Homo sapiens: one gene and its partners. The protein of the gene in region 2 interacts with the protein of the main gene of each other region in a pairwise test. Each region holds a gene or a part of one and is shown on either strand. Other genes may lie near its edges.

Region 1 (7,604 bases), on a different chromosome or scaffold from region 2:
ATTAAGCTTACTAATCTAATACTAAAGTTGCTATTTCCTTTTCAAGCAACATGGCTTTAAAGGCACAAGAAATAACAAGGCATAGTAAAGAACCTTTATGTTATGTGTATATTATTTGATTTAATCTACAGTAATCTTAAGGAAAGTAAGGCTTAAAAAGCTGAGCTACCCAAGGTAGACCATGTCTTGCCTATTCTGCAACTATTCTAATTTCAAGTTTCTATATGCTACTATTCAAATCTTTGTAGTTCCTTGAGTACCTTCTTTTTTACGTGATTTTTTTGGCATTTTTATTCTTTTTTTTTTGTAACTTAAAAATTATTTTTCTTTTCCTTATTCTAGAACAAAAGAGGTATTTGATATAAAATTCTGCTAAATATGTTTTTTAAACAACCACAAAAGATTATTTATTTTCAAAGGTTCAAACTAGCATGAGATCTGAAATAGAAAACATGTATTTACATATTTTTCACAAAATTTCTTAAAATTGAAAATGAAAGTTATTTAAATTATTATAAATTTTGTCTTATAGATACTATATTTCGAAAGGTGCTATTGTGGATCAACTTGGAGGGGACCTGAATTCAACTCCATTGCACTGGGCCACAAGGTTTAAATTTGCTTCTGGATTTTTTTCCTTTGGTTCCTTTATTAGTATATAAATAAACAACTTTAAAAAAATGATATACTAAAATGAATAGGAGAGCTTATTATGCCGTTAGTTAATATCATAAATATGCTGATGTTTTATTGTGAAATATTACCTGTAAAGAAGCAAAAGTTTATTGTCCAAAGTTTCCCTGGCCATGCTGATATTAATTCAGTTAGTTATAAGATTGGATTAAACTTTGGATTTCTAAACGTAATATTTTTGCAGCCTGTATATATTTACAATGAAAGAATTAGCTCATTTCTTGGGATGATTGAGATAATATTAGAATGGACATAATAGAATATAGTAATTATTTACTATATATTTAAATAAGTTATGAGTACTTCCATACATTTTCAGACTGTTAATCTAGTTAAGACTTCTAAGAACCATAAAATCCTAAATGTATTTTGACATGTATCTATTTTAAAATAACTTTTCAAAATACATACGTAATCTTCCCACCATACCTTACTTGAAAAAGCTCTTCCCAGAGGATCCTGTTTGAAATAACTTTATATATCTAAGTGTTTATTCTTTTATGTTTTAGACAAGGCCATCTATCCATGGTTGTGCAACTAATGAAATATGGTGCAGATCCTTCATTAATTGATGGAGAAGGATGTAGCTGTATTCATCTGGCTGCTCAGTTCGGACATACCTCAATTGTTGCTTATCTCATAGCAAAAGGACAGGTAAAAAAAATCTCAGTGGTATGGATTTTAATCAGATGTTCTTCATAGTTTAAATGCCTAATATTATTGGTGTTGTAACAAGCCGTTGATATTTAAATAGCACTTTCTGATGGGTGAAGAACATAAATATAGTGAGTTTGATATGGAGATATTTAATGTACCTAACATAAAAGCCAGCATGAAAATCATGAACCAGATAATGATGAAGTTGGGTTTTTTATTTCTAAGAGTAATGGAGATAAAGCTCAGAAATTAAGAGAGAAAATATAAGTATCTATTTTTTCTTTATGTATTTTGAATATATCATCTGAATTCATCCAAACTTTTTTGAACTTATTTATTGGTTATTTTATATATTAAATATCTCTTGAGAGGGATACATTTTTTAAGATCAGTTTCTGCTGTATAAGATAATGCTGCTTCTTACTTGTCAGAAAAACATCATATTTTAAGTGGTTGTTCCTGATTTTTCTTGAGTGTGCAGTGACCATAATCACATTAAATATTACCAGTTTATATAATCATGTTTTTGTAATAAACGTATTTTGTTAAAAGTAATGTCACCCAGTTTTTCTTTAGTGTGTTTTTTCTGGTTATATTTGAACATTAATTTTATAAGTAAGGATCTCATCACAAGAATAACTTTAAGATATATGTATTTAATTTGTTGCTATCAACATGTATTTATTGTTAATTTAAAATTCTATGCGGATTTAGAATTTGAATACTATTTCTTTTAATGAAGGTTTTACAGTATTTGTTGTTGGCAGTCTCAAGCAGTGGCAGTTGTGTTGTGCATTATAGTTTAGGAAAAGAGGCATAGACTGATAAAGTTAATTGCTGGAAGGGGAGGGGGGGTTATTGTCTGTTACTGTGTTAAAAAACTACTGCCAAAATCTAATGGCTTAAGAACAATACCAACCAATTAATACGTCTCACAATTTTGTGGGCTTGGCTGGATGGTTTTTCTCCTTGGCTGGTGGCTGCAGTTGTCTGGCGGCTTGACTGAGCTGGAAGATTGGCTCACATATCTTGTGACTTGATAGGAATGGCTACAAACTGCTTAACTGGGAGGCTGGGGCAGCGAGGCCTCTTTCTTTCTCTATGTAGTGTCAGAACTTCTACTTTTCAATACCAGTCCATGTGGTCTTTCCAGCAGGAGAACTAGACTTCTTACATATTGGCTTAGAGCTCCCAAAAGAACAAAAGTAGAAGCTGTTTTGCATTTTTAAGTCTTAGGTCTTGAACTGACACAGCAACGTTTTTTCTCCATTCTATCAGTTAAAGTGAGTTAACAAGGGCCATAACCACCCGGAGGGAAGGGACCACACAAGGGTGTGAATACCAAGAGGCCAGGTTTATGGGGGGTCATCTGGAGAGCAACTGCTATAGGAGATTATTCTTGTTATTCTGCAGTTTTTTTCTAGAACAAACGTTGAAGCAGTAAATGGTGCTATAGCACATCACAAGGTCTTTAGTGGCCTTCCATATTGCAGAATAAATCTACAATACACATTCACTTTTTTACTTTCAGTTTTTAACTGGGAAAGAAAGGTGGTGTACATTTTTGAGTCTTCATGGTCTTTTTTTTAACTTATTGATTTTGGAGTTTGGATTATTTCATTAATCTTTTTAACCTCTGGTATAGTATATAGGCTATAAAATTCTCAAAGGGCAGGATTTCTACCTGTCAGTGCTTTTGGTACAAAAAGGGCATGATGATGATAATGATGATGATAAATGTCTGAGAAATAGTTTTTTTTTTCCATGAGTAAATTTTTTTTCTGCACACAAAGATAATAAATGTTTATTATGAAATATTCAGGCATAATAGAATATGACTTAGAAAATGAAATCTCACCTCTCCCCTTGGCCATCTGCTGACTGAGGTTACTTCCTTTAATAATGTAGTATGTATTTTAAGAGATTTTATTCCATGTACAGATTAAGCATCTGTAATCTGAAAATCCGGAATGCTGCGAAATCCAAAACGTTTTGAGTGTCAACATGATGCCACAAGTGGAAAATTTTACCCCTGACACCTTTGCTTTCCAATATAGTTCGTTGTACACACACTTTGTTTCATGTACAAAATTATTTAAAATATTGAATAAAATTGCCTTCAGGCTGTATGTATAAGGTGTATATGAAAGATGAATGAATTCCACATTTAGATTTTGGTCCCATTCTCAAGATTTTATTACATATATGCAAATATTTCAACATAGGAAAAACATACACATATTCAAACACTTCTGGTCCCAAGCATTTTACATAAAGGATACTCAACATGTATACACTAATATATTGTAAAAGACACTCTTCCAATGTGCATTGCATCATACTGTGAGGGCCCAGAGTTTTTCTCTGTGCTAGAGCACTGTGCCGTTTAACCCCTGGATACCTTTGAGCTCCACTTCTGCCATCTCCCCATCATCACTCTGCTTTAACTGCACTAGTTTTTTTTTGCTACTTTTTCAGCAACTCTGACATGCTGTTGTCTAAGGGCCTTTTGGTTGCTGTTTCTTCTGCTGGTATATTCTTTCCTCAGATAGTCACACAGTTTCTCTCTCTCTCTTCAGTCAGATGGTTGCTCAAATTTTATTAGTTCTGATTACATAGTTCCTAATTATAAGCAGTAATAAAATTAGCATATTTTTATTTCTTCTTCCCTTTCTCTTTTATCGACTGTAGTCAATAATATTGTTTTTCTTAATGTTAACTATGTTCTGATAAATTTTTACTACATTTTTATTACTTGATTTTTCAGCTTTAGATAGTTTTCTTTGATTCATGGCTACTATAGATGAGGCTCTCAGCATATTTTCATTTCAACCTTTTTCCATTTTCCCATTTTGTTGTTAATTATATCAATTTTACATTGTCAGGGTATATAACATTTCCATTCAGTTTTGTCATTCTATTCTTCACAATCGTTTTGTTTTAGTTATATTGTTAAATATATTTAGTGCTCACTACCAATTCTTTTGGATGATTTTCAGGAGAAAAAGGGGAAAATGCTAAGTTATGGAGCCCTGTTGATCATGGAATTCCCATAAGCTTTTGATCTGGGCTTGTTAATTCTTCCTAATAGAGAATACCCATACGTCCAGGCTGAACTTGGAAAAGAAGTACCAAGTTTTAAATCCCGACCCAAAGAGAGAAAAGGTTGAATTTCATTTTTCTTTTAGTACTCTAGAGATGTGCCATGATTTTACATTTTTTTATTTATTGATATTTTTAATACTATCATTTTTTAAAAAGGATATGAAAACACAACTAAGAAGAAGGAGAAACTTAAACATAAGAATTTACATGCTTGCTTTAATTAGACCTGAAATTTGGTTGAGGTCCTACGGAAATTAGGAGTAAAAGAAGTCACAATAGTTACTTCTCATATAAGAAATAAGGAAGTTTGTTGTTTCTTCAGAAAACATATTTTTTTTAAGCCACAGGATTATTTTAAAAAATGTACTTGCATATTGGAAATGTTGAGTGAGGTTGCAGAAGATATTCCTGACAACACTATTAAAGTAAATCCAGAAATGGATTTGTAATGGATAAGGCATAACATTCTATGACAGTATGCATGGTGAGTGACTAAGTTAATGACATCCAAGGAAATGCTTTACTTATCTAATGTAGTGGTTCTCAGATTTTTTTTCTTCAATATGCTTAGATAATGTTCACATTTGAGACATATTCCTATTGCTAACAGTGGCTCACAGAGAACTGATGCATAGAGATAGTGTTTTACAGTGTGCTTACTGTAACTCTCTGCTCTCTCCACTGATTGGTGAATTAGGTAACACAACTTGGATTAGAACTGCTTGCTTAATGTAATTCAGGAATGGGAGATGGGGTAGAGAAGAAGAAGAAACTTAATATTTATTGAATATCCATTATGTTCTCAGCTGTTGACTAGATGCTTTGCACACATTATTTAATCTTCACAGAAGTCTTATGAAGTTATTTGTATTTCACATTTTTTAATGAGGAAGCTAAGACTAAGAATTAAAGTAATTTAGCCTACAATCTCATAGCAATTATATGATGGAGCTAGGAAGTCAAAACCATGTCTTATTCTAAAGCCAAGCCTAGAAAAGTAGATAGATAAGCATGTCTTTTCCTTTAATAAATGGTTTTCGATCATCTACTCTGCTGGGCACTGAGAATACGAAGATGGATTTGAGATGATTTTTATTTTCAAAGTACTCCAGGTTAATGAGACACACATTTCAGGCATAGAGGATAATCAGTTCAGAATGGAGTGGGTTAGGAAAGGTAGTTTCAGAGCATTGAAACTGATAAGAGTCCCTGATACATCAGAAAGTCTTGCGCAAGGAGAATTAGATAACTAGGAAAGAGTTTCGGTTTAATAGGTGGAAGTTTTAGTTATAATTTGCTAAAAACTAAGTAGTAGTGGGGGAAAGATGGTGCCAGGGAAAGCAAAAAATTGAGTAGAAGAGGAAAAATAGTGGTTTATTACATGGTTTGGCTGGGAATAGTATTTATGCATATTTATAATAATACATATCAAGTATTAAATGTTTATATGAACCAGAATTACAATAGATCTCTTGAGAGGAAAGAATAGGAAAGGCGTGCATTTGTGATGTAGCAGAGAGGAAAGAGAAAAATTCAGATTTTTTGTACCAAGGAATTTCAGAATAATGCCTGAAACTGAAAAATCAAGAAGTAGCAATTCAAACATCTTATTTAAAGATATGGAGGTAAATATAAAAATAATGAGCCAAAAAATGGTGAAAATGGTGGGAAGTAAGGCAGGGGGATTGCTTTAGTGTGTTGCTTTTTCCACACAAACTGCAGAATCATTTAACTCTAAAAATGTACATGTGTAACAGTAAAAACTGAGTATATTAAAATGTCAGTTCTTTTTATTTTTTGTTTTGAAATGCCTAGGAATAAACAGTTTTGTCGTTCTCTCTTATGCATTAGTATAAACAAGTTTTTCAGAAACTTAATCACTTAACCTATCCTTTGTGGTTGAAAGGTCAGAATAGGTTAAGAATTTTAAATGTGAAACATTGAAAGGCTGATTAAAACATCTTAAAAGGGAATAATGTAAAAGCATGATATATGTTCACTAGAGTATATAGTGACAAGAGTTTCATTTTAAAGTTAAGAAAGAAAGTTTCATACATTATCCTTGATTGAGTAGTATTATATTCGCTTCTCCTTTTATATATAGATTAGATTTTTCCAAGCAAATTTGGTTAGGAACTTATAATTTAACTGTCTGACTTTTTTTCTTTTTACTTTATCAGGATGTAGATATGATGGATCAGAATGGAATGACGCCTTTAATGTGGGCAGCATATAGAACACATAGGTATGTAATGACTATAAAAAACTTATTTAGGCCATTTCAGCATAATACAATATGAAGTAAGAGAGAGGAAAAAGCAGTTAATACTATACTCACTAATATTTACAGTTTTTATTATGACTATAGTATATATAAATTACCATTTTGGATGTTCTGGTATCTCTGTGCTGTCTCTCCCTCACTGATTAGAGCTTCCTTAATCTGTTTCTCTTTTAACAATATCTAAGAAAAGAAGTTATCTTTTTTTAAAAATTAATTAATTTTTTCATGTGATTTACATATTGACAAATTTATTAATTAGTAAGTTGTCTTAGATCACTTTTGGAAGACTCCAAATTTAAATTTTAAAAAGTGTTATTCTTGAATTGTATAAGTATTAATGCCATTTCTAGGTCAAAAATAGAAAATATCAGGACCAAGTTGCTTATCCCCTGAAACTATTAATATATTATTTTATATGGTGTCATACATACTTAATACTTCATATTAGAATATTGTCTCATTATTGATTTTAAAGTTGTTGAGTAGGTTAGAAGTGTTCCAAAATGGAATGCTACTGTAAGCATAATCAGTTTAGTATTTGTAATGATTTCTATAATTGAAATTAGGGTTGTTGTTGTTGTTTGTTTTTTTTTTTTTTCCTTTTCAGTGTGGATCCAACTAGATTGCTTTTAACATTCAATGTTTCAGTTAACCTTGGTGACAAGTATCACAAAAACACTGCTCTGCATTGGGCAGTGCTAGCAGGGAATACCACAGTCATTAGCCTTCTTCTGGAAGCTGGAGCTAATGTTGATGCCCAGAATATCAAGGTAAAAATATTCTATATTGATAATACTGTATGAAATGTGGCTAATATGTGAATTCTGTAATAAAACAAGTTTTTCATAGACTGTCAGAGTTGAAA
Region 2 (8,209 bases):
ACAAAGTGAAAAATGCCTTTGTGCTTTGGAATCCACAAAGCCCTAAGAAGCTCTCTTATGTCTTTGCCCTTCCCTGTTAAGATTTCCAGTTGCAAAATGTCAGAAGCTCGGTCTCGGGCTTCTAGACCCACCTCTGACCAGAGTCATGACCTGAGCAAGAGCTATCCTGGGGACCCCTGGGACAAGCAGCCCCATGCCCCATACCCCTGCCCATTCTCAGTTCATTTAGTTCAGCAAACACTGAGCCAGGTCTCCCTGGGTGCCAGGACCTGCGTGGGGAGCCATAGCCCCCAGAGTGGTACAGGAGGCAGATGCTACACAAATAACCATCACACAAGTCAGAGATGAGAGATAAGAGGCCGGGCACAGTGGCTCATGCCTGTAATCCCAACACTTTAGGAGGCTGAGTTGGGAGGATTGCTTGAGCCCAGGAGTTTGATACCAGCCTAGACAACATGGTGAGACCCACTGTCTCCAAGAATACCTACCTGGCTAATTAAAAATTAGCCAGGTGCAGTGGTGCGTGCCTGATGTTCCAGCTATTTGGGAGGCTGAGATGGGAGGATCACTTGAGCCCAGGAGGTTAAGGCTGCAGTGAGCCATGCCTGTGCCCCTGCACTCCAGCCTGAGTGACAGAGCAAGACCCTGTCTCAAAGACAGAGAGAGAGAAGATGCAGGCTTAAGGTAGGGAGAGGTCTTTGCCCTTGAAGAGACCTGGGGCTTGGCCTTAGAAGCTTCCAAGTAATGGGCCCAGTCACTCATTTCCCTGTTCAGCACGTGTATCGAGCTTCTGCTATGCATCAGACCCAATGGGAGGCAGGAGGTGAACAAGACAGAAAGAGGTCCTGCCCTCATTTCAGGGGGTAGACAAGAAAAAGGTGGTTGTAACACTAGGGACTGAGGCTGAGGGGACTTGGGAGTCTGTCTGGGGCTTCTATTCCCAGCAGGCTCTGGGATCAGCCTGCCTAGTGCATCTGGAATATCGTACAGGCTCCATCCTCCGCCGCTGGAAGCGGAACTGGTTTGCCCTGTGGCTGGACGGGACCCTGGGATACTACCACGATGAGACAGCGCAGGACGAGGAGGACCGTGTGCTCATCCACTTCAATGTCCGTGACATAAAGATCGGCCCAGAGTGCCATGGTGAGCAGAAGCCCCTTCCTCTGTGGCACCGTGACTGTGGGCAGAGCCTCCCGCTGTCTCCGAGAACACTTGCTGTTGGAAGTCTTTTTGCAGCTTTCAGAGGCATTTCACAGACATTGCTTCTGAGCCTCTGTCAACTCCAATTCAGTTTGGTGTGAGTTAAGAAATAGGTCCTTGGCTGTGTGTGGTGGCGCATGCCTGTAATTTCAGCACTTTGGGTGGCTGAAGCGGGCGGATCACTTGAGGTCAGGAGTTCTAGATCAGCCCGGCCAACATAGCGAGACCCTGTCTCTTAAAAAAAAAAAAATTGGTGAGATGCGGTCACATATGGCTACTGGGGAGGCCGAGGCAGGAGAATTGCTTGAGCCCAGGAATTCAAGGCTGCAGTAAGCTATGATCCCAGTACTTTGAGAGGCATGTAGATTACTTGAGTCTAGAGTTCAAGACCAGCCTGGGCAACATGGCAAAACCCCGTCTCTACCAAAACAAAAACAAACAAAAATTAGCCGGGCATGGTAGTGTGTACCTGTAGTCCCAGCTACTTAAGAGGCTCAGGTGGGAGGATTGCTTGAGCCTGGGAGGCAGAGGTTGCAGTGAGTGTTCATGGCACTGCACTACAGCCTGGGGGACAGAGCTAGACCCTGTCTCAAAAAAAAAAAAAAAAAGAAAAAGAAAAATCAGTCCTTTAGTGCCTTTCTCCTCTGTGCTGTCTCAGAGGTGAGCCAGGCACAGTTCCTGCCCTCCAGGCGCTCGGTACTGGATGAAGACGAAATGAAATTAGGAGGCCCAGAGAAGCGAAGTGGCCCAGAGTCACAGCAAATCTCCACATTCCTCCACCAAGGCCCAGGCCACAGTTCTAACAGGGTAACTGGGAGGTGTGCTGAGGGAAGCCTCAGCATGGAAAGGTTGGAAAGGTTGGAAACGTAGAGTGGAATCCCTCAGAGAGTATATGGGATCAGAGGAGGTTGGCAGTGGCCAGTAAACAGAGCCCAGAGAAGTCAATTCCTATTCCTGTCCCTGCTTTACTGGGGGGACCTGGGGCTTGTGCCTGTGGAAACCCATATATGTGTGTCTGCTTCCAGATGTGCAGCCCCCAGAGGGCCGGAGCCGAGATGGCCTGCTGACTGTGAACCTACGGGAAGGCGGCCGCCTGCACCTCTGTGCGGAGACCAAGGATGATGCCCTGTGAGTCACTCCCAGGAGAGGATGGGGTGGAATCTCGGGGAAAGTTACCATGTGCCCCCTTCTCATTGGGCCTTCTGGTTCTCTGACCGTAGGAAGAGGGCACTAAGGCCAGTCAGCAAGGGAGTCTTATTGGAGGCGGGTGGAGTGGATTTGAAGGGCTTGTGGTGACTGGCATGGCACACAGTGAACTCCTCATGTGGTCTACAGTGAACTCAGGATTGCTGAGGGGGAGGTGTGCACACCTGCCTCAGGTATCTGGTTCCTGGTCTTTAGCGGCCTCTGAGGTGAGCCCTCACCTGAGGGTGATGCAAAGCAGCAGAGCAGCCTAGTGGCACCCTTGCTCCCTTCTTAGAAGATGCCCTGGTGGGGGACTCTGATCTGAGGGGTAGCCCTGGACCTGCCTACAAAGGCAGTCAGCTGCGTCCCAGGCAGGGGCACCCCAATGTCAGATGCATATCCACGTGGCCAGCCTGGGTGTGTCCTTCTCAGGCACCATCTGCTGGCTCACATTCCGTCCCTTCCTACCCTCTGGCTAAGGGGTACATGGCCTTTGCGCTGGAGGAGAGTGAAAGAGATGGGTGTGTGGGAGTGGGGGAAGCTGAGCTCCAGGCAGACAGCACAGAGCCGCCTTGTCCAACCCAGCCAGGTGCCATGGCAACCAACAAAGGCCCCATTGTCCCGTGTCTGCTGGGCCTTCCTGAGGCTCTGGGGTCAGAGCTTTGGGGAAGTGTTTTGTTTGTAGATTTGGGATGTGGAGGGGGACTGGGCTACAACACCCACCCAAGAGTGTCAGAATCTGACATCCCCTGAGAGACCACCCAAGCCCAACCGTCCACTGTATAGATGAGGAAACTGGAACTTCTAGAGGGGACGAGAAGAATGAATTAGCCTAACTTAGTGCTCCATCCATGTGACTGGGGCAGGGGAGGGGTCACTTTTGTCTTCCTGAGGGAGACAAGAGATCTCTCCTTTCATGAGAGACTTGGGCTTGAGGCTGGGTTGGAGAGGAAAGTCTAAAATGTGGGGGCCCAATTCACCCACCCCCAAACTCCCTCCTCATGGTCTGGTGGGATTTGCTTTGCAGAGCATGGAAGACAGCACTGCTGGAGGCAAACTCCACCCCGGTGAGTCTCCCGTTCTCTCCCCCTTTCCCCACCACCTCCATGTGCCATGGAATCATGAGTGACTCAGACTCGGTCTCCACCTGCCAGAAGTTCTCAGTCTTATGTGGATAGGTTTCTGCAAACTCTGATGCCTGAGTCCCAAGTGTTCGGGGAAAGGATAAGGGAGAGCCAACTGGTGCTCAGAGGAGAGAGAGAAGCCTCCATGGAGATTTGCTGGAGGGAGTGGCACATGAGCTGGGGAGAAGGAACTGTCTTTTATCGAGCAACTATTATGTGCCAGGTGTGGTGCAGGTATCATTCCAGCTGCTCCTCACAACAGTCCTGTGAAGTTGGGGTTATTGTTCTCTCTCTGCAGATGATAAGACTGAAGCTCATTCATCCGCACAACAAATATTTACTGAGCTGCTACTATGGGCCAGGTGGTGTGCCAAGTGCCAGGGATCAGAGGTGAACCAAGGAGATATGGGCTCTGCCCACCTGGACTCAGCCTAATGAGAAGCCAGACATGGAACAACTAATTAATTATTCCATTTCAATAGTAATAACAGCTCTGACAGAGATTTGCAGTGTCTGGCCCTTTCATCCAGGTGGTAGTTCAGGCAAGGCTTAAACCGAGGACTGAAGGATAAACAGAAATTGACTGGGTGAAAGGTGTGGGGATCGGGTAAAGGGCACGGCATTCCAGGCAGAGGGATCAGCATGTGCCAAGGCTCTGAGAGAGGTTAAGACATTTGGCAAGTTGAGGAACAGAAGGACAGCTGGGGTGGCTGGTGCTTAGGGAGTGAGTGGGTAAGGAGGGAAGGAGGGTTGGCACGACCAGGTCTTGTGGGCTGTATGAAGGATGTTGGTTTCTGCTAAGAGCACCAGGGAGCCATGACAAGTTTTTGAACAGAGGGATGGCATGATCAGATCAGGTTCAATTTATATTTTTAAAAAGATAATTGTTGTAACGTTGGGGCATGTAAAAAAAAGGGGGTAGTCTGTCAGTTTATGAAATTTTGTTGTAGAAAAAAGGAAAAAAAAAAAGATAGTCTGGCTGGTAGGTAGGGAATGGATTATAGAGGGTAACTGCAGACACCCAGAGGCCACTTAGGAGGCTGGGACAGTGTCCGGGCAACAGACTGGAGATCTGGATTAAGGCCTTGTTGGCCGAGACAGGCTGATGAGTACAGGACATATTTAGGAGATGGAGTCAACAGAGCTTGTGACTGATGGAAGTGGCGGTTTGAAGAGCCGCCCAAAGCCCAGCTTGGCCTCCACCCCCATCTGCCTGACTCCAGAATCTGTGCTTGCTCTTTCTCTGTATGGCACAATGGAGCCCCCTCTCACCTATAGAGAAAGTCCGTTGGGAAGTAGCAGGGGAGACCTGGATGCATTTAGAAACCTCCTCAGGCATCCACGTCCTGAGTGCCAGGCATCATGCTAAGCCCCTGGCAGCAGTGACATCATTTCATCTTCCAACAACCCTGGCAGGGCAGCTGGGTGGGGGTTGGTATTATTAGTCCCATTTTACAGATAAGGAAGCCGAGGTTCAGAGAGGGGAGGTGACTTGTCCAAAGCTTATACTCTTAAGTCAGTGGAAAAGCCTACCATGGAACCTAGGTCAGTGAGATTTTGAGAGGAGGGCGTTATCTGCAGAAGTAGCTGCATGAGCAGAGACAGAGAAGTGATGTGTGCACATGTGTGTGTGCACAAGTGCTTATGCACATATGCATGCGTCTAAGGGCCCAGAGTCTGCCTGGCTGGAGAGCAATTCATGAGGCGAATGAAACAGGAGAGATGACCTCTGAGGTCATCGGGGCCAGCTCATGATGGGCCTCAAAGTCCAGTTGGAAGAAATGGACTTTCCCTGAGGCCTGTAGGGAGCAATAAAGGGCATTCAGCAGCGAGGGCTGTGGTCAGATTTTGGGGAGCAGACTCAGGCTTCCAAGTGGCGGGTGAATTGGAGAAAGCTGGGAGTAAGGAGGCTACAGCAGTAGTCTGCAGGGTGGAGGGACCCAGGTCAGGCTACCCTGGCTCTGAGCTCCAAAGCCTCTTTATGTGGGGCAAGTCAGTTCCACCAAAGAGAGGCGGAGGGAAGGAGGCAAGGGTGACTGTCTGCACTCTGTGACTCTATGAAGCGGCCTCGTCCTTCTCTGCCTGTCCATCTCCTGTGGCTCTGCTGACCCTTCTCTCTGCCCTGGCCTCTATTCTACCTCCCACTACTCCACATATACACGTCCTTCTGTGCCCGGGCTTACTAGAGTCGGGGTGTATTTGTGCCTGTGTCTACCTATCTTTGTGTGTTCACCTCTGTTTATGGGCTTCTCTCTGTAGCCTGTGTGGGAATGACCTGCCCTTTGTCCTCCGACATGCTGGAGTTCATACCTCACTCCAGGTGGAGGCTCCAGGAGCCCCTAACACCAGCTTTACTGGGAACACAGGGCCTGGGGGCACAGCTAGGGACGAGGCTGGGGTGAAGCGGACCAGGTGGGCTAGAGGACAGAAGGGAGTCGCCCTGTCCTCCCTGGAGACTGGGAACCCCAGCAGGATGAAATAGGGGAGGGTGGGCTAATTCTGGAAAGAGACTACTTGTCCTTCTTTTCTGCGTAACTTTGGCAGTCATCAGCATTCTCTGAGCCTCCCCCGTTACCATGAGCTGAGGAGAAAGAGGATGCTCCCTGCCACAGCCCAGCTGGCGGAGGGCTCTGGTAGGGTCTGGAAAGAGCTCTTGAGTCTCTTTAGGTGTAGAGGGCCTCTGACACCCCCTCCCTCCCTCCTCCTTCTTGGGTTTCTGTGGCTTGAGCAGGCCCCAGCTGGAGCCACCGTCCCTCCCAGGAGCCGCCGGGTTTGCTCCAAGGTCAGGTGTGTGACCCGCTCGTGGAGCCCCTGTAAGGTTGAGAGGCGGATCTGGGTAAGTGCTGGCTCGGCCCTCCCTGCCTCCATACTGGCCACCAGGATGAGCCTCCAAAACCAGGCCCAGTCCATCCCTTCCCTGTGACAAACATTCCATGGCTCCCTATCACCCACAGGACACAAACCAGCTGCTCTGCTGTACCCTCTGTCCCCAGCCACACCAGACCTTTTCCCTCTGCCAGCCTTCGCACATGCTGTTCCCTCTGCTGACAAGACCTCAGTTTCCTCATTCACCTGACAAACTGATGCTCATCCTGTAAGGCCCACCTCAAAGGCTGCCTGCCACCTACTCAGTGGGGACTTCCTAGACCACTAGGCATCGTCATTCCCTCCCTCAGCCTAGCGGCACCAAGGCTTAGTGCTTTCTTCATTCTGCCTGGTTTCAGAGCTGGTTTATTCCTGTCTGTGTAGTCTTCCATGAGGCCTAGAACTTCCTCCAAGGCAAGAATGAGGCCTGATTGCGCTGCCTCTATGGAACTTGGCACAAGGCTAGGTAAATGGCACATGCTCAATTAGTGCTCGATGATGGGGAGTCTATGCTGACCTTTCTTACACAGTGGGGCTCAGGGAATGTTCACTGAGTGAGCAAAGGAAGGAAGGAGGGAGTGAAAAACTTCCTTTATAGCAATACTACTACATAGTCTAATTTAGTCTAGGTCTGTCTCCCCTCACCCTCAATGTTTCTTGAAGGCAGGATCTGGCCTGAATCTTTTCTCTGTCCCCAGAACTCAGCACAGGGCCTGGCATGGGGTGGGTGGCAGGAGGGGGCTTGAGTGAGAGTACCTGTGATCTTATAGTCAACTCTGAGCTCATCTTACACAGTGGTGCTCAGTGTGGCTATGTATCAGGATTGTTTAGGAACTTACAAGCACTAATAACAAGTATTCATGTTCCACCTCTGGATGTTTTAATCTGGCATGGGGCCTAGGCCTAGGAAACCTGTAGTTTAAACCTGTCTCCTGGCCAGGCCTGGTGGCTGACACCTATAATCCCAGAACTTTGGGAGGCTGAGGCGGGCAGGTTGCAAGGTCAGGAGTTCAAGACCTGCCTAGCCAACATGGTGAAACCCCATCTCTACTAAAAGTACAAAAATTAGCAAGACATGGTGTAATCTCAGATACTCAGGAGGCTGAGGCAGGAGAATGGCTTGAACTCAGGAGGCGGACGTGGTTGCAGTGAACCAAGATCACCCCACTGCACTCCAGCCTGGGCAACAGAGTAAGACTCCATCTCAAAAAAAAAAATTGTCTCCTGATGACTCTGATGTGCAGAATCACTAAGCCTAGAAGTGCCTGGGCCACCAAATTGTATAGATGTGGCACTGTTAGATCCTCAGTGGCTTGGAGAGGTTACCTAACTTGATCAGGGTCACTCAACTCATCAATGGCAGGTCTGGGACTCCCAGCCCATCGTTCTGAGGTATTTTCCATGCCCAAACTAGGATGCAAGTTTGTTTAAAGTGGGGATGTCAAAAACTAGGATTTAACAGACTGTAAACCTAATAACACAACAGCTCAGCTAAGGGGAGTCATTTGCATGTGACCCCCTGATTGGTCAACACTGGTTGTACCCACAAAGTAGCTGGGCCTCTGGAGAGGGAGAGGCAGGTTCAAACCCTCAGGTTCTGCCCATGGGTCTCTGGGCTGTCCCTATTTGTTGCCAGGTGACTTATAGGAGTTTACTTCTGGGCCTCCCAGACGTGGAGAGTAAAAACAGGTGCCCTCGAGGGATATGGGGTGCTCCACCCTCTCCAGGGCCTCCCAAGGCCACTGGCTCACTGTGTAGCAGCAGGGCAAGGTGGAGGCTGTGGACCTCAACTTCCCCACCAATAAAATTGGACCTGAGAGCTTAGATCCCTCCAA
Region 3 (7,604 bases), on a different chromosome or scaffold from region 2:
TGGGCAGGGCAGGGGGACTTAGCCCTGATCCAGTCATGGTGACAGGGAGAATGGCCAAGTGTGTCCACCAGCATGTAGCTGCAGCCCCTCTCGGCTTCCGGTTCATGGGAAGCCCGCACGCTTGTCCTTCCATCCGCCCAGCATCGTATGTCTGCAGGGAGGTGGGAGCTGCAGTGCCCAGCTCACGTGGCTGGCACACGATGCAAACTGAGGCCTCTAGGCAGATCTGGAACAGAGCTGGTCGGGCAACCAGGCATTCAGAAGGAGCGGCAGTAGTCCCAGGACCTGCACCCTAGGCTGTGGGGTGGTGCCGCTGGCCAACCTGGGCAGTAGAGGCTGGGTCTGAGCCCAGGAGGTGCCTCTCAGGGATTCCCGGTGCTTGGGCCCAGGGTGGTGGGCACCACTTCTGCCCTGCCTCCAAGAGCAGAGTCACCCGAAAACCAGATTCACCGCTTGTCTGAAGGGGAAGGCTATGGGAGCAGCCCAGCCCGAACCTGCCACTTTACAGAAGGGAACACTGAGGCAGGAAGGGGCCTGGGAAAAGCTAGAAAGGTTCCTACCTGCCCGTCTGACAGGGACCCAGGGGCCCTGGGTTCGAGTCCTGTTCTGTTATTAACCCTGCGTGCCAGACCATTCCCGTCTGCAAAGCGGGCACTTCCCCCCTCCCCGGCTCACGGGGGCCAAGCTCTGGCGGCTGGTAAAGCTCAGAGGTGGTGGGTGGTGTCACACACCTGTCAGCTCCACAGGCTGCTCCTCACATTCGTGTGGTCTGGGGGCATGGCTGGTGTCTGCTCCCAAGGTCACAGTGGGGGTTCGGAGGCAGGAGTACCTGGCCCACTGGGACTCTACACTCCAGCACACCCTGAACTGTGCCTCTCCCTCAGGCTTCCTGCTGAACTCCAAGTTCCCCGAGAAGGTGGAGGGACGCTTTTCAGCAGCCCCTCTCGTGGACCTCAGCCTGTCACCACCATCTGGGCTGGACTCCCCCAATGGCAGCAGCTCGCTGTCCCCCGAGCGCCAGGGCAACGGGGACCTGCCTCCAGTGCCCAGTGCCTCGGTAAGGAGGGGTGAGAGTTCCGGAGAGAGGGGTGGACTGGTTTCCTGGGGTTGCCATGACAAAGTACCCCAACACTGAGTGGTTTAAAAAACAGATGTGTTACCCCTCATAATTCTGGAGGCTGGAGTCTACCTGGAAGGCTCTAGGGGAGAACCTTCCCTGCCTCTCTCCTGCCTTCTGGCAGCTTCTGGAAATGCCTGGCACTCTAGCCTGGTAGCTGCTTCACTCCAGGCTCTGCCCTGTCTTCACACGGTCTTTGTCCCTCTGTGTCCGAATCTCTCTCTGGTTTCTCTTATAAAGACACCAGTCATGGCCGGGCACGGTGGCTCACACCTGTAACCCCAGCACTTTAGGAGGCTAAAGTGGGAAGATCGCTTGAGCCCAGGAGTTCAAAACTAGCCTGGGCAACATAGCAAGACCCCATCTCTATTTATTTTTTTGAGACAGAGTCTTGCTTCATTGCCCAGGCTGGAGGCCAGTGGCCCGGATCTCAGCTCACTGCAACCTCCGCCTCCCGGGTTCAAGCGATTCTCCTGCCTCAGCCTCCCAAGCTGGGACTACAGGTACACACCATCACACCTGGCTACTTTTGTATTTTTAGTAGAGACAGGGTTTCTCCATGTTGGTCAGGCTGGTCTTGAACTCCTGACCTCAACTGATCCGCCCATCTCGGCCTCCCAAAGTGCTGGGATTACAGGCGTGAGCCACTGTGCCCGGCCTTTTTTTTTTTTTTTTTTAAACAGGGTCTAGCTCTGTCACCCAGGCTGGAGTGCAGTGGCATGATCTCGGCTCACTGCAACCTCTGCCTCCCAGGTTCAAGCAATTCTCCTGCCTCAGCCTCCCAAATAGCTGAGATTACAGGCATGTGCCATCACGCCTGGCTAATTTTTGTATTTTTAGCAGACATGGGGTTTCACCATATTGGCCAGGCTGATCTTGAACTCCTGACGTCAAGTGATCCGCCCACCTCAGCCTCCCAAAGTGCTGAGATTACAGGCGTGAGCCACCGCACCTGGCTATATATTTTTTTTAATTAAGAAAATAAAAATTTAAAACACACCAGTCACTGGGTGTTGGGCCCACCCTAATCTAGTGTGACCTCATGTTAACTTGATTACATCTGCAAAGATCCTAGTTCCAAATAAGGCCACATGCACAGGTAGGGGCTGGGGAGAAGAGGACCTGAATGTCTCTGTTTGGGGACACCATTCAGTCCACTACCGATGGGACGGGGGGCTCTGGGCCAGCAGGACCTTGACTAGCCCTCCCCTCGCACCCCAGGACTTCCAGCCACTGCGCTATTTGGATGGTGTCCCCAGCTCCTTCCAGTTCTTCCTGCCCCTCGGCTCCGGGGGGGCCCTGCACCTGCCTGCCTCCTCCTTCCTTACCCCTCCCAAGGACAAGTGCCTCTCGCCAGACCTGCCCCTGCCCAAGCAGCTGGTGTGTCGCTGGGCCAAGGTGAGTGGGGGCCAGCAAGAGTAGTGTGGAGTCTGGGGCAGGTCACCCCGCATGGGCTCAGAACACTTCCCATCCTCCGCAGTGTAACCAGCTCTTTGAGCTCCTGCAAGACCTGGTGGACCATGTCAACGATTACCATGTCAAGCCCGAGAAGGATGCGGGGTACTGCTGCCACTGGGAGGGCTGCGCCCGCCATGGCCGAGGTTTCAACGCCAGGTGAGGTGGGGGAGAGAGGGGTAGAGGGAGGACTGGGGTCTCCAGTGAGCTGAGCCGTGCCCCCCGCCCTCCCTGGAGCAGGTACAAGATGCTCATCCACATCCGCACACACACCAACGAGAAGCCACACCGCTGTCCGACCTGCAGCAAGAGCTTCTCCCGCCTGGAGAACCTGAAGATCCACAACCGGTCGCACACAGGTAAGAGGCCGGGGCCGGGCGGCTTGGCCCATGAAGGGGGCGCTCAGCTGAGACCGGCTGGGCAGGTCCCCAGGGGGAGGGGACTGTTAAGTAAATCCCGGGCCTCAGAGATAAGGGTTGATGTCATCGCCCAGGGGTCCCTTTTCCAATGCAGTTTGCTAGGGGAAGCATCCCCTGGGGGTCAGACCCCCACCCAGCACCTGCTCTTGGAGCACCAATGCCATTTCCTGGTTCCCGTGGGTATCTTCTGACTAATGCCACCTCTGTGATCGCAGAGGCCAGGTCGGCTTCACTCCTCACTACAGCCCAGGCCCATACCAGGACAGCTCTGGTTGTCAGAGCCACAGACATAATTTTACATTTCCTAATCGCTGCATAAAACACAGCAAAAATAAATGGGTGAAATTAATTGTAATATGGTTCGTTGACCCCGGTACATCCAACGTGTTATCAATTCATTATTAAAGACAAATCAGTGAGATATTGAAGTTCTTCATTTCATGACAAAGCCTCAAGGAGCTGATGTGTATGTTTTTTCCTGGTGTTTATTTCACCCTGGCAGCACATCTCCAGGTGGAGAGCCATGTATCAGGAGGTCAGTCACTACATGTGGCCCCCTGCTCTGGCCAGGGCAGCAGAAGATGCCTGGTGAACCTTCAGCCATTTGTTGAGTGAGGGCAGTAGCGCCCAGGCAGCACTCCCTGTGGCCAGGCCCACGCTGGGCGCCTCGTGCCAGGATGTGATCTCCAAGGCCATGGTGTCTTTTTTTTCTTGAGACAGACTCACTCTGTCACCCAGGCTGGAGTGCAGTGGCATGATCTTGGCCCACTGCAACCTCTGCCTCCCAGGTTCAAGTGATTCTCCTGCCTCAGCCTCTGAGGTAGCTGGGATTACAGGCACCTGCCACCACACCCAGCTAGTTTTCGTAGTTTTAGTAGAGACGGGGTCTCACCATGTTGGCCCTGCTGGTCTGGAACTCCTGGCCTCAAGTGATCTGCCTGCCTTGGCCTCCCAAAGTGCTGAAATTACAGGCGTGAGCCACCGGGCCCGGCCTCCAAGGCCATGTTCTGCTGCTGAAAGGCACATCCTCTGTAGCAGAGGGTGCAGGGCGAGGCTAGGCAGAGCTGGAGTCAACCAGGCTGAGTTTTCAGCCTCTGTGCCCTGCCTGGGGGCAGATCTCATGCCATGTGCTGGGGATGCCCCCTGCCCCCAGAATTGGGGCATCTATGTTCCCAGGGAGTGCTTGGCCCGGGGAAATGTTGAGTGCATGGGGTGAGACCCAGGAAGGGGAGAGACCCCTCATGGCGGCACTGCACTGCACCACCCTGCAGGTGAGAAGCCCTACGTCTGCCCCTACGAGGGCTGCAACAAGCGCTATTCCAACTCCAGTGACCGCTTTAAGCACACGCGCACCCACTATGTGGACAAGCCCTACTACTGCAAGATGCCCGGCTGCCACAAGCGCTACACGGACCCCAGCTCACTGCGCAAGCACATCAAGGCCCATGGCCACTTTGTGTCCCACGAGCAGCAAGAGCTCCTGCAGCTGCGCCCACCCCCCAAGCCGCCACTGCCCGCCCCCGACGGCGGCCCCTATGTCAGTGGGGCCCAGATCATCATCCCCAACCCAGCTGCCCTCTTTGGAGGCCCTGGCCTGCCCGGCTTACCCCTACCCCTGGCCCCCGGCCCCCTTGACCTCAGTGCCCTGGCCTGTGGCAACGGTGGGGGCAGTGGGGGTGGGGGGGGCATGGGCCCTGGGCTGCCAGGCCCCGTCCTGCCTCTCAATCTGGCCAAGAACCCGCTGCTGCCCTCGCCCTTTGGGGCTGGCGGACTGGGCTTGCCTGTGGTCTCCCTCCTTGCTGGCGCAGCTGGTGGCAAGGCCGAGGGGGAGAAGGGGCGTGGGTCGGTGCCCACCAGGGCCCTGGGCATGGAGGGCCACAAGACGCCCCTTGAAAGGACGGAGAGCAGCTGCTCCCGGCCAAGCCCCGATGGACTCCCCCTGCTGCCAGGCACCGTGCTGGACCTGTCCACGGGCGTCAACTCAGCTGCCAGCAGCCCAGAGGCGTTGGCCCCTGGCTGGGTGGTCATCCCGCCGGGCTCGGTGCTGCTCAAACCGGCTGTGGTGAACTGAGCCCATCCTGCGGACAGTTGTGGTGCCCCCCCGGCAGCTCCCGGCACTGCCCCCGACGAACGGAAACTCTTCTGTGAAATAGCAATAATGTCCTACTGCCCGGGCAGCCCCAGCCCAGCCCGCCGGGAGCAAGGATGGTGCTAGGTCATTCATGGCTGGCCTCCCAGCCCCCGGGTGGGGACCTGGCCTGTCATGCAGGGAGAGCTGTGCTCCTGGGTGCTGAAGCCTCGCTCCTGTCTGTCCCCCACCACCTGGCCCTCAGCTTCTGAGAGGCTTTCCCCTGCCCGACCTCCTCCCGTTTCCCTCTCCCACCCTGGCACCTCCCTCACCTAGTGACCACCCATGGCAAGTTGCCCTCTCCCAGCAGAGGGGGTGGGTGGGGTGGCATCTGCCCTCCCTGCTAGCACCAGGCTCCCCCTTCCTGAGAGGAGCCCCCAGGGACCAGAGGCCTGCCCTTCCCTCCTAGGCTTACCCAGCCCCTGCCCTGGGGGCTCCTTGGACCCCTTTCCCTCTGACCCTGCCTCCAGAGGGAAAGCAAGACAGATGCAGGCCCCTGCAAAGCCCCAGGTAGAAGCATGCCCCCCAGGACAAGGCGCCTCCCACTAGTTAGGAGGAGGCCCGCTCTGCAGCCGCCGTCCTCACCCCAGGCCAGGCCTGCAGTACCAGACGGGATAGCTGGCCACTCCACCCCTGCACCCCAGGGTCTCCTCCCTCTACCTTTTGGGGCACCCTGGGAGCGTGGGAAGCAGGTCCGAGGGCCCCTGAGCTGGCAAGGGGAGGTGCCAGGCCAGCTGTGGTGCCAAGATACTGAGTGACCTGGGCCCTGGCTCAGGGAGCATGTGGGGCCAGGCCCAGCGCCCCGTCTTCCTCCTTCTACCCCCGCTGGGCCTGGCCTGGGCAGCGCCCCCTGCAGAGGCCTTTGGGTCCTTGGTCCTGTAACAGGAAGGGGGAGGCTGGCTGGGGACGACCGACCACAGGCTGGGACACAGCTCCTGGTCTGGGGGCTCCAAGTGACAGCATGCAGGGGAGGGGGCTCCCAGTCAGTGCTGTGTTGGGAGCTTTCTGGAGGCTGTGGACTGAAGGCCTTGAGGGAAGCAGTGGCTGGAGGAGGGTGCTGGACCCATGACACGTTGCTTCCTCTGGCTTTTCCCTGCTGGGCCGCTTTCTCAGAGGCACTTCCCCACCCCTAACACCCAGTGGGCCCCCCCAGGTTCTGTGCCACTCAGAGGGACCCTGGCAGGGGCCAGAACCACTTAAGGGTGGTGCTGGAGGGCCTTGTGCCCCAGTCCCATCCCAGGACGCCCTGAGGGATGGACGCAGCCATGCACCCCCCATCTGGGGCCTCTCCCTGCTCCCTCTCCCACCTGGCAGCTGGGAGTTCTGGCTTCTAGGCCTGCCCTGTCACCAGGCCTCTGAGTGGCCAGGCCCTTCCACCTCCCCATCTGTAAAACGAGGCAGCTGCCCGGACAGCCTTGGGGTCCTTAGTGGCCCTGCAGGTCCTCTGGCAGCTCTGCTGACCCCACCCTCTCCCGGACTGCCCTTCTGTCCCAGAGGGGTCACCCTGACCCGGCCCACCTTGCCACTGGGCTTTGGACTCCAGCCCTGACAGGGCCCAGCCACACTGGCTCTGCCCCTCGAAGGGGCTATGAGCAAGGTAGGAGGGAGCTGGTCTCCTTTCTTCGGGCCCCACCCAGGCCCTGAGCACCCCCCACCCCTGTGAGGGCCCCAGGCCTTAAGTCCCTGGCGGGGTCATGGGTTTGCGACTTGAGCAGAGCGGAGGAACAGGGCACTGGAAGGCCGACGAGCTCAGCATGCGACTCGGTGACGGACCAGGCTCGGCAGGGCCGGTGTACTTTTTGTGGTTGTCATTGGTGTGTTGTTGCACATTCCAGGACGTCAGTATTTTAACAGGTTCTAAGTGCCTTTCTATCGTAGCTTATGTTTTCCTCCTCTTGGCTCCATTGCTGTTAGCATAGAGTTTTAAAAAAAGAGATAAGCTAATGACTATAACAATATATTCCTCCATGGGAGAGGAAGTTTATAAAGAAACAATAAAAGTGAGTTGCAAAGATGGCTTGTATGTCGTGGATGTGCCAGGAACCCGGCCCTGACATGAGGCCACCACTGCCCTGAGCCCCTGCAGGCCTGATCCGGGCTTTCTCCCCGACCCTGCAGGTGCCCCTCCCTCTCAATCTGCCGCTTAGAGCAGGAACTGGAAGGTTGGGAAGGAGGTAGGTGCTGAGGGCGCACAGGTGACAGGAACTGAGACAGAAGATTCCAGGCGGAGCATCCCAAGGTCCAAGTCCTCAGCCCACTACTGCCCGCTGCGGCTTTGGAGAGTGGTGGGCAAAGGCCCTTCTCCCCCCAGCCACATTCTGGGGTACTGTGCCCAGATTACTGAGGTGCTAGGTTCAAACCTGCCCCAGGGACAGGGTGGCTGCCGACAAGAGCTCTGGGGCCAGGAGACCGCCACCCCGTGGGAGGGGCAGGGGCGCTATGGGAGGGAGCCTCACCCTGGCACGGGTGCTGTGGAAGCAGGAGC

Evidence for each region. Proteins that work in one complex are often made in the same cells at the same time.
Region 1: the proteins of PLEKHB1 (region 2) and ZDHHC17 interact in binary tests that used the Homo sapiens proteins (3 or more experiments, as listed by UniProt).
Region 3: the proteins of PLEKHB1 (region 2) and GLIS2 interact in binary tests that used the Homo sapiens proteins (3 or more experiments, as listed by UniProt).

The regions. Positions count from the first base shown.
Region 1 is NC_000012.12:76,808,511-76,816,114, forward strand, and holds part of ZDHHC17 (palmitoyltransferase ZDHHC17), read left to right. Parts: intron 1-532; coding exon 533-610; intron 611-1,202; coding exon 1,203-1,347; intron 1,348-6,635; coding exon 6,636-6,700; intron 6,701-7,346; coding exon 7,347-7,509; intron 7,510-7,604. UniProt on the Homo sapiens protein: Palmitoyltransferase that catalyzes the addition of palmitate onto various protein substrates and is involved in a variety of cellular processes.
Region 2 is NC_000011.10:73,649,563-73,657,771, forward strand, and holds part of PLEKHB1 (pleckstrin homology domain-containing family B member 1), read left to right. Parts: intron 1-990; coding exon 991-1,143; intron 1,144-2,225; coding exon 2,226-2,328; intron 2,329-3,412; coding exon 3,413-3,452; intron 3,453-6,240; coding exon 6,241-6,345; intron 6,346-8,209.
Region 3 is NC_000016.10:4,332,463-4,340,066, forward strand, and holds the end of GLIS2 (zinc finger protein GLIS2), read left to right. Parts: intron 1-884; coding exon 885-1,057; intron 1,058-2,338; coding exon 2,339-2,515; intron 2,516-2,597; coding exon 2,598-2,731; intron 2,732-2,812; coding exon 2,813-2,931; intron 2,932-4,262; coding exon 4,263-5,062; 3' UTR 5,063-7,133; downstream 7,134-7,604. UniProt on the Homo sapiens protein: Can act either as a transcriptional repressor or as a transcriptional activator, depending on the cell context. Acts as a repressor of the Hedgehog signaling pathway. Represses the Hedgehog-dependent expression of Wnt4.